Regions from separate parts of the Homo sapiens genome. Here region 1 is linked to region 2. Evidence: fine-mapped expression QTL. A gene starts in region 2. The other region holds a variant in brackets. All regions are shown on one strand. Distances are from middle to middle.

Region 1 (8,225 bases), 68 kb before region 2:
GCAATATCAAGTCTCCCCTGGATCCCCTGCCTGCCTGCCCTGCAGATTTCAGACTTGCCAGCTCCCCACAATCACGTGAACCAATCCATTAAAATCAATCTCTCTCTCCATATATGTATATACATGTATATGTTCTCTTTTTTTTTTTTGAGACAAAGTCTCACTCTTATCGTCCAGGCTGGAGTGCAATAGTGCAATCTTGGCTCACTGCAAGCTCCGCCTCCCGGGTTCAAGCAATTCTCCTGCCTTAGCCTCCTGAGTAGCTGGGATTACAGGTGCCCACCATCACGCCCGGCTAATTTTTGTATTTTTAGTAGAGACGGGGTTTCGCCATGTTGGCCACGCTGGTCTTGAACTACTGACCTCAGGCAATCTGCCTGCCTCGGCCTCCCAAAGTGCTGGGATTACAGGCGTGAGCCACCACACCCAGCTTATATCTATATGTTCTATTGGTTCTGTTTTTCTGGAAAACCCTGGCTAACACAGACATGATCTCAGCTCTTAACTTCAAACATATTTCCTTTTTCTTTTTTTAAAGGAGAGAGAGAGATGTGAAAGGACGGGATGTGAAGATTATGGGGAGAGGGTGAGGGCAATGGAGGGGAGAGGAGGGGAGAGGAGGGAGGTCACAGATGGGAGCTCAGGATGCCAATCCCAGATGTGCCAATGGGTTCCCATTGTTGCCCAGGCTAGAGTGCAGTGGTGTGATCATACTCGAATTCCTGGGCTCAAGTGGTCCTCCTCACTCGGCCTCCAGGGTAGCTGGGAGTACAGACCACCACGCCCAGCCAACTTCAAACACACTTCAATGAGCTCGTTGATGCCAGGTAATGAACAGCAGTGACACGGGCATGGAAGGCGTTTAGAGTGGGGAGGGGTGGGGCTCTCTGAAGGAGACATGATTCCCCAAGACACAGAACAAGGGATCAGCTGGGAGAATTCAGGGAGGATTCCTAATAAGAACAGGGTTAGAGCAGGGTAGAAAAGAATGACCAGTGGCCGGGCACGGTGGCTCACGCCTGTAATCCTGGCACTTTGGGAGAGTGAAGTAGGTGGATCACTTGAGGTCTGGAGTTCGAGACCAGCCTGGCCAACATGGTGAAACCCTGTCTCTACTGAAAATATAAAAAATAAGCTGGGCATGGTGGCGCACGCCTGTAGTCCCAGCTACTCAGGAGGCTGAGAGAAGAGAATTGCTTGAACCTGGGAGGCGGAGGTTGCAGTGAGCCGAGATCGCATCACTGCATCATACACTCAACTGACCAAGACTCCAACTCAAAAAAGCATCCCTCTCAGGAGATAAAATTTCTACCAATTAAAAAACAAAAACAAAACAAAACAAAAAAAACTAGTTCTTGAGCAATATTGCCATGCAAGTCTACATCATAGCGTTTTAAAGTCTTAACAACAACCCTGCAAGGTAGTACAATTATTTCCCTCCCACTGGTGAAGGGCATGCATTCCCGTGTGACTCCTGGGATTACAGCAAGGGTTGTGTCCAAAGCTCACAGCGTTGAGGAAGAGAGAGCAACCTGTTACTAAAGCTAGGCGACAGAGTCCATGCAGTTCCCCCCCGTTTTTTGTTTTTCTTGGCACTTTAGATTCAAGAAACACAAGTCGTGAGACTTTAAGGAGTAAGTAGCAGAAACGTGATTAAGGAAAAAAGTTGAGCAACTATAGAAGTGAGGCCCCAGAAAGGGGCTTCACCAAGACCCCCGCTATCTTTGTTAGTGTGCTTTGAGTCTGAGAATTTTTCCTAGGTGTGCAATGATCTGTGGTCACATTACAGAGCCAAGTCTGAGATGCTTCACACGCCTGGTCCTCTGCACCAACAGAGGGTCTCCCATCCAGACGCTTCCCCTACTTGGTTCGCTATGTTTGCATTGGCATTTCTACATATCTATATATAGAGAATTACCTATCTAATTTATCTATCTCGCTAATCTATCTACCATCTGTCTAGGTATCTATTATCTATCTACCTATCTATCTTTATCTGTCTCTGTACCTACTTACCTATCATCTATCCAATCTATCCGTCCTATCTAATTATGATTTATCTATCTACCTACTTGCCTATCACCTATCCAATCTATCTATCCTATCATATGTAATTAACTATCTGTCTGTCTAATTTTTCTATCTTGTTAATCTATCACTTATCTAGGCATCTATGTATCTATCTTTATCTGTCTATCCACCTGCTTACCTGCTGTCTGTCTAATCTATCCATCCTATCATATCTAATTATCACTTATCTATCTACCGACTTACCTATCATCTAGTTACCAAATCTATCATCTATCTAATGTATCTATCAATCATAACCAGTTATCTATCATCTATCATCTATCATCTGTATGTATCTGTCTATTCACCTACTATTATCTATTTAATCTATTCTATCTAGTTATCTATCTATCTATCCACCTACTTATCTAATTTTTCTATCTTGCAACTCTATCACCTATCTAGGTATCTATGTATCTATCTGTGTATCTGTATATCTATCTATCTATCTAGCTAGCTTTATCTAGCTACCTAGTTACCTATCATCTATCTATCTAATCTATCATCTATCTAATGTATCTATCAATCATATCTAATTATCTGTCTATCTAATCATCTATCTTATCTATTATATCTAGTTATCTATCATCTAGCTAGCTAGCTAATCTATCTGTATCTATCTACCTACTTACCTATCGTCTATTTATCTATCTAATCTATCATATCTAGTTATCTATCTACTTACTTATCTAACCTGTTGTATCTAGTTATCTATCTACCTACTTACCTATCATCTGTCTATCTATCTAATCTGTCCATCGTATCTAGCTACTTATCTACCTATCATCTATGTATCTATCTAATCTATCATATCTAGTTATCTATTTATCTGCCTACTTGCCTATTATCTATCACATCTAATTATCTATCTATCCCCCTCCCTGAAATAAGGTTCTTTCTGAGCTGATCATCAGGGAGCAGCAAAAGGAGTGGGGAGTTTGAAACAAGACATATTTGAGTTCTAGTACTGGGTCTCCTACCTCCTGACTTTGTAAATGTTCCCTTCCCTTTCTGGAATACGTTATTTTTTGGTTAAATATAAGGAGGGGGCAGAGAGCTAATAATATCTAACTTGAAGAGTTAGGTAATGATGAAAAATCCTGGCTTTAAAGCGCTCAGTCTAGAAACTGACTCATTGTGTCGGATAATGGGATTGTAGGTATAATGATGATTTTTTTTCACCCAATATTCCACCTACACCCATCTCTCTCTGTAATAGATTCTGTCAATGTTCCTCAACCCATGTTCCCCAGATCCCTTTCCCATTTTTATGCATTCTAGATCGTGGCTTCTTTCCCTTTCCAAAGTGAACATTTGTATCTCTTCTTTGGGGGACTGCCTGGGAGAACTCCAAATGCCTTGGAATTTACATGCCCGGGACAAACTGCCACTGACGGCTGTGGGGACCCCAGCTCCCTAGCCTCTGGTCTTCGACCTTCTCTGTCTCCACTGCTTTCTGCAGGATGGAGCCAAAGATACCATCTGAGGGACACAGATATCCCACACTTGTTTAATCTATTTTCCTCCCAGCCCTTCTTCCCCACTCCCTAAAATGTAATTTTCAAGCCAGGCGTGGTGGCTCACACCTGTAATCCCAGCACTTTGGGAGGTCGAGGCAGGCAGAGCACCTGAGGTCAGGAGTTCGAGACCAGCCTGACCAACATGGAGAAACCCCGTCTCTACTAAAAATAGAATATTAGCTGGGTGTGGTGGTGCATGCCTGTAATCCCAGCTATTTGGGAGGCTGAGGCAGGAGAATCTCTTGAACCTGGTAGGCGGAGGTTGCAGTGAGCCAAGATCACGCCATTGCACTCCAGCCTGGGCAACAAGAGCGAAACTCTGTCTCAAAACTAAATAAATAATAAATAAAATAAAACGTCACTTTCACACTAATGCTGTCTAAGAGCCTGCTTCTGGTGGAGCTGAATCAGAGAACCCCTCAAAAGCAACAATTTTTTTTTTTTTGAGACAGTCTCACTCTGTCTCCCAGGCTGGAGTGCAGTGGTACAATCTCGGCTTTGGAACCTCCCCCTCTGGGGTTCAAGCAATTCTCCTGCCTCAGCCTCCCAAGGAGCTGGGATTACAAGCACCCGCCACCTCACCCCGCTAATTTTTTATATTTCTAGTAGAGATGAGGTTTCACCATGTTGGTTAGGCTGGTCTCAAACTCCAGAGCTCAAGTGTTCTGCCCACTTTGGCCTCCCAAAGTGCTGGGATTACATAAGCCACCATGCCTGGCCATAAGCAACAATTCTATCAGTGCATCTCCAAGGACTTATGAAAACAGGGCAGGAACAGCTGCTCCTGGACTCTCAGTTTCCCCAGATGGAAGCAGAGAAACAGCAGCCTTGCCTTGTCCTTTCTGTTCTCCCCTTTTCCAGCCTACGGTATCTTTCACACAGCAATTCACTAGAAATGAGAAGTACATTATTGCAAAATTCTCATCTTCATATGACCCCATAATCAGCTGAACTGGGTTCACCCTGAGATGTCCACAGATCCTGGCCAAATGTTGCATCAGTATTTGCAAATTGCCAGAATAAATCATAACTTGCTACGCTACTAAAGTCAGCGTGAGCAACAAGATACAGCCTGACACGGGGCATAAATGGAGGCACAGGCACCAGAAAGAAAGTCAAGTCTTGTGTGATAAAATTCATCTTCATTCTCTACATTGC[G/A]ATTGAACATAGAGTCGTTTTCTAGTGTGTTTTAGGCATATAAATACAGGCTGGGGACATCATACCTGTGCTTACAGATATTTTACTTTTATTTTATTTATTTACTGAAACAGGGTCTCGCTCTGTCACCCAGGCTGGAGTGCTGTGGCGCAATCACAGTTCACTGAAGCCTCAACCTCCTGGGCGCAAACGATCTTTCTGCCTGAGCCTCCCAAGTAGCTGGGACTACAGGTGCACACCACCACGCCTGGCTAATTTTTGTATTTTTTGTAGAGATGGGATCTTACCAAGTTGTCCAGGCTGGTCTTGAACCCCTGGGCTCAAGTGATCCTCCTGCCTCATCTTCCCAAAGTCCTGGTATTACAGACGTGAGCCACTGCGCCCGGCAAAGATATTTTATTCTGTTTAGAATTGTGATGATACAAATTTGAACTCAAAAAGTACATTTTAAGAAATTATATAATACCCACTGGGATGGCTATAATTTAAAAAAAGAAAAGTAAGTGTTGACAAGGATGTGGAGATATTGGAACCCACATATATTACTGGAAGGAATATAACATGATACAGCCACAATGGAAAATGATTTGGCAGTTCCTCAAAAAGTTGAACATAATAGTCACCATATGTCCTAGCAAATCCACTTCTAGGTACATACTCAAGATAATTTACAGCGCGGAGACAAACAGATACTCCTACCACAGTGTTCCAGCACCATTACTCGCTTTAGCCAAGAGGTGCAGACAACACAAATGTCCATCAAAAGAAGAACGGGGCCAGGCACAGTAGCTCAAGTCTGTAATCCCAGCACTTTGGGAAGCTGAGGCGTGTGGATCACCTGAGGTCAGGAGTTCGAGACCAGCCTAGCCAACATGGTGAAACCCCCTCTCTACTAAAAATACACAAATTAGCTAGGCATGGTGACGGGCGCCTGTAGGTCCAGCTACTCAGGAGGTTAAGGCAAAAGAATCACTTAAACCTGGGAGGCGGAGGTTGCAGTGAGCTGAGATTGTGCCACTGCACTCCAGCCTGGGCGACAGAGCAAGACTCCGTCTCAAAAAAACAAAAACAAAAACAAAAAAAAGAATGGATAAGCAAAATGTGGTCTATCCATACAATACGATGCTTTTCACCATGACAAGAAATGAAACATTGATGCATGCTACAGTACAGACAAACTTTGAAAACATTATGCTAAAGAGAAAGGAGCTAGTCACAAAGGATCACATAGTGTATGAATCCACTTACACAAAATGTCCAGAATAGACAAAATCATAGACACAGAGAAGCATATGAATGGTTGGAAGGGCCTGGTGGGAAAGTGGGAAATGAGGAGTGACTGCTTAATGGGTACAAGATTTTCTTTTAGGGTGATGAGAATGTTCTGGAATTATGTAGTGGTGATGGTTATACTACCTCATGAAGATACAAAATGCCAGTGAATTGGACACTTTACAAGGGTGAATTTTTGGACTGTGAATTATATATCAATAAAAAAAGAAAGAAAATAAATGATACAAGAGCTCAAAATAGAAAAGCTTCTCTTCCTCCTCCCCCTCACACCTCACTAGATCTCCCACCTCGTTTCTGATACTTCTGTGTTCCTCTCTCCCATTAGATTTCATATCTTTCTCAGAAAACGTTCCTGACGTGAATTGTGTTCGTAGTGCTAGGGTAGCAGACATTTCCCAAGCCTACTATCATGGAATAAAAACGTTTCAAATAGTTATCTTGCAAGAACACTTTGGAGGATACCTTTTTGAAAACCGATTATACCAGCACAGACTGCTAGCAACAACCTTCAGCAACTTTGGCTCTTTGGAGTAGGTTGCAGGAAGATTATGACTTGCTGAAAGGAAGGATGATTAAGCATCTAGATGCCAATTTATATTCTGCATTTGGCCCTTAAAGTCTGGATGAGTTCCTGTTTCAGCCGAATGCTGCCAAAAGCTCTAACTTTTTAATTTTTTTTTTTTTTTTTTTTTTTTGGAGACAGAGTCTCACTCTGTTGCCCAGGCTGGAGGGCAGTGGTGTAATCTCGGCTCACTGCAACCTCTGCCTCCCAGGTTCAAGCAATTCTCCTGCCTCAGTCACTTGAGTAGCTGGGAATACAGGCGCCCACCACAATGCCCAGCAAATTTTTGTATTTTTAGTAGAGACAGGGTTTCACCATGTTGCCCAGGCTGGTTTCGAACTCCTGACCTCAGGTGATCCGCCCACCTCGGCCTCCCAAAGTGCTGGGATTACAGATGTGAGCCACCTCGCCTGGCCCAAAAGCTCTAATTTTTATGAGAAACTCTGAGGACAGAATCTTAGTCAATTGTTAATGAATAAGCAACATTAGAAAAAAAATTCAATATTCACCTATTTTTGAGAATTTTAGAGTTATAACAAACTCTTGATTATATATATTCCTGAAGTACCTACTCTGCGTAGGTCCTGGTCCTACTCCCCAAATGGGTCACTGAAAAATTCACCCCCATTATTCCCCAAATCCCACCCTAGTTTTTCATCATGTCATATGGCAAACAACGCACTCTGTGCTGTTTTACACACCAGCTTCTTCAGAACCCGGAAGCACTTTAGAGGTTATCTCCCCTCATCCTCCACCCCCCAAAACACAGCAGTTTCCCCAATAACATTGAGAAAATGGGCTTTAAAGTTCTTCTAGGCCGGGTGCGGTGGCTCATGCCTGTAATCCCAACACTTTGAGAGGCCGAGGCGGGGGAATTGCTTGAGGTCAGGAGTTTGATACCAGCCTGGCCAACATGGTGAAACCCCATCTCTACTAAAAACAAAAAACAAAAAACAAAACTGAGCTGGATATGGTGGTGGGTGCCTGTAATCCCAGCTATTCGGGAGGCCGAGGCAGGAGAATTGCTTGAACCCAGAACCCAGGAAGTGGAGGTTGCAGTGAGCTGAGATTGTGCCACTTCACGCCACCCTGGGGGACAGAACAAGACTCTTTCTCAAAAAAATAAATAGGCCGTGTGCGGTGGCTCACGCCTGTAATCCCAGCACTTTGGGAGGCTGAGGCGGGCAGATCACAAGGTCAGGAGTTCGAGACCAGCCTGGCCAACATGGTGAAACCCCGTCTCTACTAAAAATACAAAAATTAGCTGGGTGTGGTGGTGCGTGCCTGTAGTCCCAGCTATTCGGGAGGCTGAGGCAGGAAAATTGCTTGAATCCGGGAGGCGAAGGTTGCAGTGAGCTGAGATTGCGCCACTGTACTCCAGCCTTGGTGACAAAGCGAGACTCTATCTCAAAAAACAAACAAACAAACAAACAAACAAATAAATAAAGTTCTCCTTGTGCACTTTAAGCAAAGGTGATCATGAAGCAGATCTCATTGGGAAAAACATCTCCTTTCTAATTATCTTACCTGTTTTCATTGAGGGAGCTTCAAGTTCATCGTGTTTATCTAGAAAATAGGAGGGAAGAAAAGGAATTACACTAATCATACAGGAACCTTGGGGA
Region 2 (8,372 bases):
GCTGGAGGTTAGGGCAGGAGGTGCGACTTTAGTTACGACCTGCAGAGAAGGCCCGTGGGCCCAGACTTGAATAAGGAGGAGACAAAGGGGTGACAGGAGGAAAGTATGCCAGGCTGAGGGGACAGCCCTGCACGCAGCTTCTGAGGACTCCAGCCTAGACATGGAGGGAGAGATGTGACTCAGCCAAACAGGGACCCAAAGACAGTGGCTGAAGCAGGTGCTGCTCCTGGGTCAGAAAGACCTGAGTTCCGGGCGGGGCACAGTGGCTCACGCCTGTAATCCCAGCACTTTGGGAGGCCGGGGCGGGCAGATCACTTGAGGTCAGGAGTTCAAGACCAGCCTGGCCAACATGGTGAAACCCCGTCTCTACTAAAGATACAAAAATTGGCCGGATGTTGTGGCACATGCCTGTAATCTCAGCTACTCAAGAGTTTGAGGTCGGGAGTTGCAGACCAGCCCGGCCAACATGATGAGACCTCATCTCTACTAAAAAAAAAAAAAAAAAAAGAAAAATACAAAAATTAGCTGGGTATGGTGGCGCATGCCTGTAATCCCAGTTTCTCAGGAGGCTGAGGCAGGAGAATCGCTTGAACCCAGGAGCTGGAGGTTGCAGTGAGCCGAGATCACACCACTGCCCTCCAGCCTGGGTGACAGAGTAAGACTCTGTCTCAAAAGAAAAAAAAAAAAAAAAAGTGCCAGGCACGGTGGCTCACGCTTGTAATCCCAGCACTTTCAGAGGCCAAGGCGAGCGGATCACCTGAGGTCAGGAGTTTGAGACCAGCCTAACGTGGTGAAACCCTGTCTCTACTAAAAATACAAAATTAGCCAGGTGTAGTGGCGCATGCCTGTAATCCCAGCTACTCGGGAGGCTGAGGCAGGAGAATCGCTTGAACCCAGGAGGCGGAGGTTGCAGTGAGCTGAGATTGCAGCATTGCACTCCAGCCTGGACAACAAGAGCGAAAATCCATCTAAAAAAAAAGAGTTCAAGTTTTGGCTCTGGCTTGGCACAGTGGCTCATGCCTATAATCCCAGCACTTTGAGAGGCCAGGAGTTCGACACCAGCCTGGGCAACAGAGTGAGACCCCAACACTCAAAAACTAACCAAAAAAATTAGCTGGGCTTGGTGGCTGTAGTCCCAGCTCCTTCGGAGGCTGAGATTGCTAGAGTCCAGGATGTTGGGGCTGCAGTGAGCCACAGTCATGCCACTGCACTCCAGCCTGGGCAACAGAGAAAGACCCTGTCTCAAAAAAAAAAAAAAAATCTCAGATCTGCCACTGCTGAGCTCTGAGCTTGGGTGCATTACTTAACCTCTCTGAGCCTTGATTTTCTATACTTGTAAAATAGTAGTAATCTATTCCTGGGGGTGGATTAATGGCAGAGGCTCCAGTTGAGTCCGTTTGGGCCTTGGTGTCTGTCTGTTAAACAGGGTTTGGAATATGCCCCTGGCCTCTAGCCTTCCTCCTTACAGAACTCCCCAATACTGTCATTAAGAATTGAGGCCAGATGTGGTGGCTCATGCCTGTAATCCTAGCATTTTGGGAGGTCAAGGCGAGTGGATCACTTGAGGTCAGGAGTTCAAGACCAGCCTGGGCAACATGGCAAAACCCCATCTCTACAAAAAGTACAAAAATTAGCCAGGTGTGGTGGTGTGTGCCTGTAGTCCCAGCTATTTTGGGGGCTGAGGCAGGAGGACTGCTTGAACCTGGGAGACTGAGGCTGCAATGAGCTGAGATTGCGCCACTGCACTCCAGCTTTGGTGACAAAGTGAGAACCTGTCTCAAGAAAGAGAAAAAGAGTTGAAGGCCAGGCGTGGTGGCTCAAGCCTGTAATCCCAGCACCTTGGGAGGCTGAGGTGGGCAGATCACCTGAGGTCAGGAGTTTGAGACCAGCCTGACCAACATGGTGAAACCCTGTCTCTACTAAAAATAGAAAAATTAGCTGGGTGTGGTGGCGGGCGCCTGTAATCCCAGCTACTAGGGAGGCTGAGTCAGGAGAATCACTTGAACCCAGGAGGTGGAGGTTACAGTGAGCTGAGATGGTGCCATTGCACTCCAGCCTGGGAGACAAGAGCGAGACTCCACCTCAAAAAAAAAAAAAAAAAAAAAAAAAAAAGTTGAATTATTTCCCCCAAAAGAGGGTGTTGAGGCTTTAACCCCCAGTACCTCAGGATCACCTTATATGGAGACAGTGTCGTTACAAAAGTAATCAAGTTCAAATGAAGCCAGTGGGTGGGCCCTAATCCAGTATGACTGGAGTCCTTATAAAAAGGGTAAATTGGGACACAGACACACACACAGGGAGCAGCAATGTGAAGATGAAGGCGGAGATCAGGGTGATGTTTGTACGTGCCAATGACTGCCAGAAACCTCCAGAAGCCAGGGGAGAGGCCTGGAAGATTCTCACAACCCTGTCGACACCTTGCCTTGGATGTCTAGCCTCCAGAACTGTCAGACAGGAATTTCTGTGCTTGAGGGACCCTATTTGTGATAAGTTCTGGGAGTCCAAGCAGACTAATACAACTGTCTTCAGAGTTTCAGGCATCCAGACCTGATGCTGTTCCTCCCCCATTTGAAACCCTTCAGTGGCTCCTTCACTCTCAAGGAAAAAAAAATATCCAGACTTCTTGTCCTGGTGTTCCTGGCCTGCCAAGATCTGAGCCCTGCCTGCTGTTTAATCCTCATTGATTGATTGATTGATTTTGAGACGGAGTCTCACTCTGTCACCCAGGCTGGAGTACAGCAGCATGATCTTGGCTCACTGCAACCTCCGCCTTCCGGGTTCAAGCAATTCTCATGCCTCAGCCTCCCTAGTAGCTGCGACTACAGGTGCGCACCACCACACCTGGCTAATTTTTTTGTATTTTAGTAGAGATGGGGTTTCACCATGTTGGCCAGGCTGGTCTCGAACTCCTAACCTCAGGTGATCCGCCTGCCTCAGCCTCCCAGTGCTAGGATTACAAGCGTGAGCCACCATGCCCAGCCCATCCTTATTCTCAGCAAGGAGGCTATTGCAGTCATTCAGCCCAGACAGCTGGAGTTTGCAATGGCAGCCATAGGGATGGAGGAGAGGAGAAGGGTCCAGAGACACTCAAGAGGCGGAATGAATGAGTCGAGAGGAGTGAATCCTGGCAGGGGTATGGGAGATGTGAAGAGCTTGGGCTTTCACCTGTGAGCGGTGCCACGCATTGAGAGGCCCCCGGGAGACATCAGAGAACCCATCTGCGTTGTCAGGGAAGCTCCACGGGAGATGGCCCTTCCAGGGGCCCGGCACAGGGCCAGACACATAATGCATGCTAAATGACTGAATATATAAGCTAAATGACTGAATATATCAGCAAGCCAAGAAAGGCTGGGCATGTGGAAAGGCAGAGATTGCGGGGGGCGGTAGTTTAGGCCAGGGGACCCCAAAACCGGGGGATCCGCACTCACCTACCTGCTCGATCTCCCGGCAGCGCCGACCTAGTGCCTGGTACTTTCTGCGATTTAATTCCCGCTGGCGCCGCCGCCGACCCCGGGCTGCCTCTTCCTCTTCATCTCGCTCCCGGAGCCCTGAGCCGCCCAGACCACCTGACACAAACTCCACTTCCGTCTCCAGCTCGCTCTCCAGGATGTGGCCACCAAATAGGGGAGGCAACGCCAACTCTGAGCCTGGCGGCGCTGAGAACTCCTCAAAGCCCACGGCTGCCATGGTCCTGAGAGGCAGGGAAAGGCTCAGGGGCCCTGGATCCTGGACCCCCAGCCCCTTCTCCCACTGAACCAGGAGCCCAGACCCCAACCCCTCCTCCCTGAGATCCTAGAATCCAGGCCCCCAGCCCCTCCTCCCTCAGACCGTAGAATCCAGCTCCCAGCCCTCCTCCCTCAGACCCAGAAGTCCAAGTCCGCAACCCACCCTTCGCAGCACCCACAGGGTTCAAGCCCTGACCCCCTCCTCCCAGGATGCAAGAGTCCAGACCTCCAGACTTTTTCTCTCCAAGGACCCAGGGAGTCCAAGCCCCAACCCTCAACCAGACGCAAGAGTCCTGGCTTCCAACCTCCTAGTCTGTCAGATCCAGCAGTCCAAACCCCTAACCTTCTCCTCCCTCAGGATGACCCCAGTCCATAAAAGGGTTCTAAGGTAAAGCAGTTGCATGAACTACAACCCCCATCAGACCTCAGCGTAAAAGCTCATATGGTTGCACACAATGCAGCTGCACTGTTTTCTGGGATTCGCACTTTTTCACAAGGGCTCAGCCACATACCCTTCTCTCTGCTCCAATTCCATCTCCGCGACCTCCGGAAGCCCCGGGCCTCAGAGCTTCCGACCTCTTCAATCTGTAGGTTAAGCCGTTCGCAAAACTACTTGTCCCATCAGGCTCAGCAGCCGAGGACGGCGGGACGTGGCCCTAGGCCTTGTGGGAGTTGTAGTTTCCTGTTTCCGGCTTCGCTTCGGCCCACCCCCACGTCCACCCCGAATCCCTGCTTAAAGGCCTTGCTTTCTTGTCTAACGCCGCAACCAGTCCTCTGAGTTGCCAACGTCTTTCTTCTTGTCTCGACGCCCCGTCGTCCGGCCACAGCGATTCTCTGCTTAGCAGGATCGGTCCACAGCGGGACGTGAGTCCCTTTCCTCCTCGCGGCTTACCGCCTCTCTCCGCCTAGTGCCAGGTGCTAATAAAGTTGTTGTTTCAAATGCGGCCAGGAACATCGCGAGCGGGGACCAATCAGAGAGTAGCTTTGCCTCTATAACGGCGCGAGAGTGAGACGTCATCGGTGAGCGACTAACGCTAGAAACAGTGGTGCGCGGAGAGGAGAGGTGAGTGTGATGGGGACCACGGGGAGCGGGAGGCTGGGCTCCTGGGTCTGGGAGAAGAAGTGTGTGAGGAAAAAGGCGGGTCTTTACAGCTTGGTTTTTGTTTTTTTGTTGTTTGTTTGTTTTGAGACGGAGTCTCGTTCTGTTGCCCAGGTTGGAGAGCAGTGGCGCGATCTCGGCTCATTGCAACCTCCGTCTCCCGGGTTCAAACGATTCTTCTGCCTCAGCCTCCAGAGTAGCTGGGATTACAGGCGCCCGCCACCACCCCTGACTAATTTTTGTATTTTTAGTAGAGACGGGGTTTCCCCATGTTGGTCAGGCTGGTCTCGAACTCCTGATCTCGTGATCCGCCCGCCTCGGCCTCCCAAAGTGCTGTGATTACAGGCATGATCCACCGCGCCTGGCCAGTTGTTTGTTTGTTTTGTCTGAGACGGAGTTTCGCTCTTGTTGCCCAGGCTGGAGTGCAGTGGCGCGATCTCGGTTCACTGCAACCTCCGCCTCCCGGATTCAAGCGATTCTCCTGCCTCAGCCTCCCGAGTAGCTGGGATTACAGGCGCGCACCACCACGCCCGGCTAGTTTTTTGTATTTTTAGTAGAGACGGGGTTTCACTATGTTGGCCAGGCTGGTCTCCAACTCCTGACCTCAGATGATCCACCCGCCTGGGCCTCCCAAAGTGCTGGGATTACAGGCATGAGCCACCGCTCCCGGCCTTTTACAGCCTGTTTACCCAAAAGTCTTAATATGCGCCTACCATGGTGTGGCCCTGGGGATGTGGAAGGAGCAAAAATTGTTCGCTACCCTCTTAGAGCTTTGGTTGATGCCTGGCAGACAGGCTTTATCAAATAATTACTTCATTAATCACAAATGTGTGAAGTGCCTTACTGTAGACACGCAGAGCGTGCGGGACACGTTATCACAAAGCAACCTCCTGTAGTCTAGAGTGGGGCGTGTGGGTCAGGGAGGTGGAACGTGAGAGCTGAAGGCTGAGGAGATGCTGGGCTACTAAGAAGTGAGGAGAGCCAGACGCCATGGCTCACTCCTGTAATCCCAGCACTTTGGGTGGCCCAGGCGAAAGGATCGCTTGAGCCCAGGAGTTTGAGACCAGCCTGAGCAACACAGTGAGACCCTGTCTCTACAGAAAAATTTAAAAATTAGCCGGGCGTGCTGGTGCGTGCCTGTCATCTCAGCTATCGGGAGGCTGAGGCGGGAGAATCGCTTGAGCCCAGGTGATCGAGGCTGCCGTGAGCTATGATGGCGCCACTGCACTGCAGCCTAGGTGACAGAGCAAGACATGGTCTCAAAAAAAAGAAAAGAAAAGAAAAAACAAAGTGAAGGAAAGGGCCACTTTAGTTACAAGGGACTCCTGTACAAAGACCTGGAGGCGGGAAGAGACCGATAATGTAACCAACTCAAGTTTCTGCTACTCAGAGGCAGAGGAAGTGGGGGGTGGTGAAAGTAAAGCAGCTTTACTGATCAAATGCTCGCAGATGAGAAATGGCCAAGCTAATGTCTTTAGAAGACCATTTCAAGCTTTAGGCTGGGGAGAGGGGCTTAAAAAGGGGAACTTTGAATGGGAGGCATACAGGAGTGGTGCTGGGTACAAGGTATGTGTGTCTTGCTCCGAAGGCTGTCTTGAGTCACGGGCCACCTGGAGCATGGGCTGGTGTCAAGTCAACAATGGCCACGTTGTAGATTGATCGCCTTGAGGTGATCTCTGGAGTTTTGCAGCTGGGTTTCCATACCTAGTTTGTTTCAAGATTAGCCCCTGCGGCGAGGCGCGGTGGCTTACGCCTGTAATCCCAACAGTTTGGGAGGCCAAGGTGGGTCGCTCACTTGAGGTCAAGAGTTCAAGACCAGCCTGGCTTACATAGTGAAACCTTGACTCTACAAAAAAAAAAAAAAAAAATTAGCTGGGCATGGTGGCAGGTGCCTGTAGTCCCAGCTACTCAGGAGGCTGAGGCAGGAGAATCGCTTGAACCCAGGAGGTGGAGGTTGCAAGTGAGCCAAGACTGCGCCACTGCACTCCAACCTGGGTGTCAGAGCCAGACTCCATCTTTAAAAAATAAATAAATAAAGATTAGCCCCTGGAACTTCTAAGTAAGCACATAGATAAGCCAGCAGTGCAAGACAGTATCTAGTGGGAAAGGAGGGAAACAAAGAATTTCAAAGTATGTTTTCAAGGCTAAAGGCAAGAAAGGAATAAGAAAGTTTGCAAATGCATTTGGAATCTACACCACTTGGTTCCAGTAAGTCTTAGCAAGGTGGCGGTCATAGGGGTGTGCTGCGTCTTGCACAGGTCGGAGCTGGAGACTCGCCAGTGAACAAAACAAACTAAAGCACCTGTTGTCGTGGAGCCTGCATGCTAGTGGGGTTGATAAAGAAGGACCAGGGTCTTCTGGGGGAGAATCATCGCTCAGTAATAAGGAGGGACTTTGTCGGGGCAAGTTTTTAGGGAACGCTGCTGTCCCTCCCCAGGCCTCGGGATGTCTCTGGCAGATGAGCTCTTAGCTGATCTCGAAGAGGCAGCAGAAGAGGAGGAAGGAGGAAGCTATGGGGAGGAAGAAGAGGAGCCAGCGATCGAGGATGTGCAGGAGGAGACACAGCTGGATCTTTCCGGGGATTCAGTCAAGACCATCGCCAAGCTATGGGATAGTAAGATGGTAAGAGGACAAGAGGTGTTCCTAGCAGGGGGCTCTAGACAGAATCTCCCAGAAGGGGGTGATACAGGCTTCTTTTTGAAGAGTGCTGGATTCTGACTGTCTTCTCCTTTCCTACAGTTTGCTGAGATTATGATGAAGATTGAGGAGTATATCAGCAAGCAAGCCAAAGCTTCAGAAGGTGCTTCCTCCCACTCTGTGCCCCTCCCCATCTCCTGTCTCTCCTGCCAGGCCCCCTGGCTCCCTGGCTGCTTGTGGCTGGGTATATCTCCTTCTCAGCCTTTTCCAGAGCCTTCTTTTTTTTTTGTTTCACCCCAACCCGTTCCCTTTTCCACTAAATATATATTGCATTGTAAAGCTCATGCTTCTTAAGTCCTTCCTGTGTGCTGAGCTTACTGATCATGATAGGACTCAGCTTGAGGTTTCCCAGACTTCACTGATTCACATGACCGGTTACAGGGTTTTTGCCACATCTATAAGCCGCTTATCCTATTATTTGCTTAACATATTCTTTGAGTCTAGGACTTTTTTTCTTAAATTTATCTGAGAAGGAAGCAAATTGCTACCATGAATGGAAAACTGGTATCATTTGGCAAAGACAAAGTCACTGTATAAAAATAGATATATAATTATTTAGGAACCACCTAAGGCCGGGCGCCGTGGCTCACGCCTGTAATCCCAGCACTTTGGGAGGCGGAGGCAGGTGGATCATGAGTTCAGGAGATCGAGACCATCCTGGCTAACACGGTGACACCCCGTCTCTACTAAAAATACAAAAAATTAGCCAGGCGTGGTGGCGGGTGCCTGTAGTCCCAGCTACTCAGGAGGCTGAGGCGGGAGAATGGCGTGAACCTGGGAGGCGGAGCTTGCAGTGAGCCGAGATCGTGCCACTGCACTCCAGCCTGGGCGACAGAGCAAGACTCCGTCTC

The links. PIP is the estimated chance that this variant, and not a neighbour inherited with it, causes the effect.
Region 1: its variant is fine-mapped to the expression of TFPT in whole blood (INTERVAL, PIP 0.93).

Annotation. Positions count from the first base shown.
Region 1 is chr19:54,043,280-54,051,504 of GRCh38, forward strand. It overlaps VSTM1 (V-set and transmembrane domain containing 1), which reads right to left. Exons shown (of 9, transcript NM_198481.4): 4 at 8,131-8,169. Among named protein-coding and RNA genes, the nearest start is that of VSTM1, 17 kb to the right of the region's middle. The variant G/A (reference allele first, on the strand shown) is at 4,749.
Region 2 is chr19:54,111,010-54,119,381 of GRCh38, forward strand. It overlaps TFPT (TCF3 fusion partner), which reads right to left and starts at 4,648. Exons shown (of 6, transcript NM_013342.4): 1 at 4,238-4,648; 2 at 3,433-3,691. The coding sequence starts at 4,260. PRPF31 (pre-mRNA processing factor 31) reads left to right here and starts at 4,745. Exons shown (of 14, transcript NM_015629.4): 1 at 4,745-4,788; 2 at 7,262-7,446; 3 at 7,564-7,624. The coding sequence starts at 7,270. RefSeq lists an enhancer at 2,934-3,807.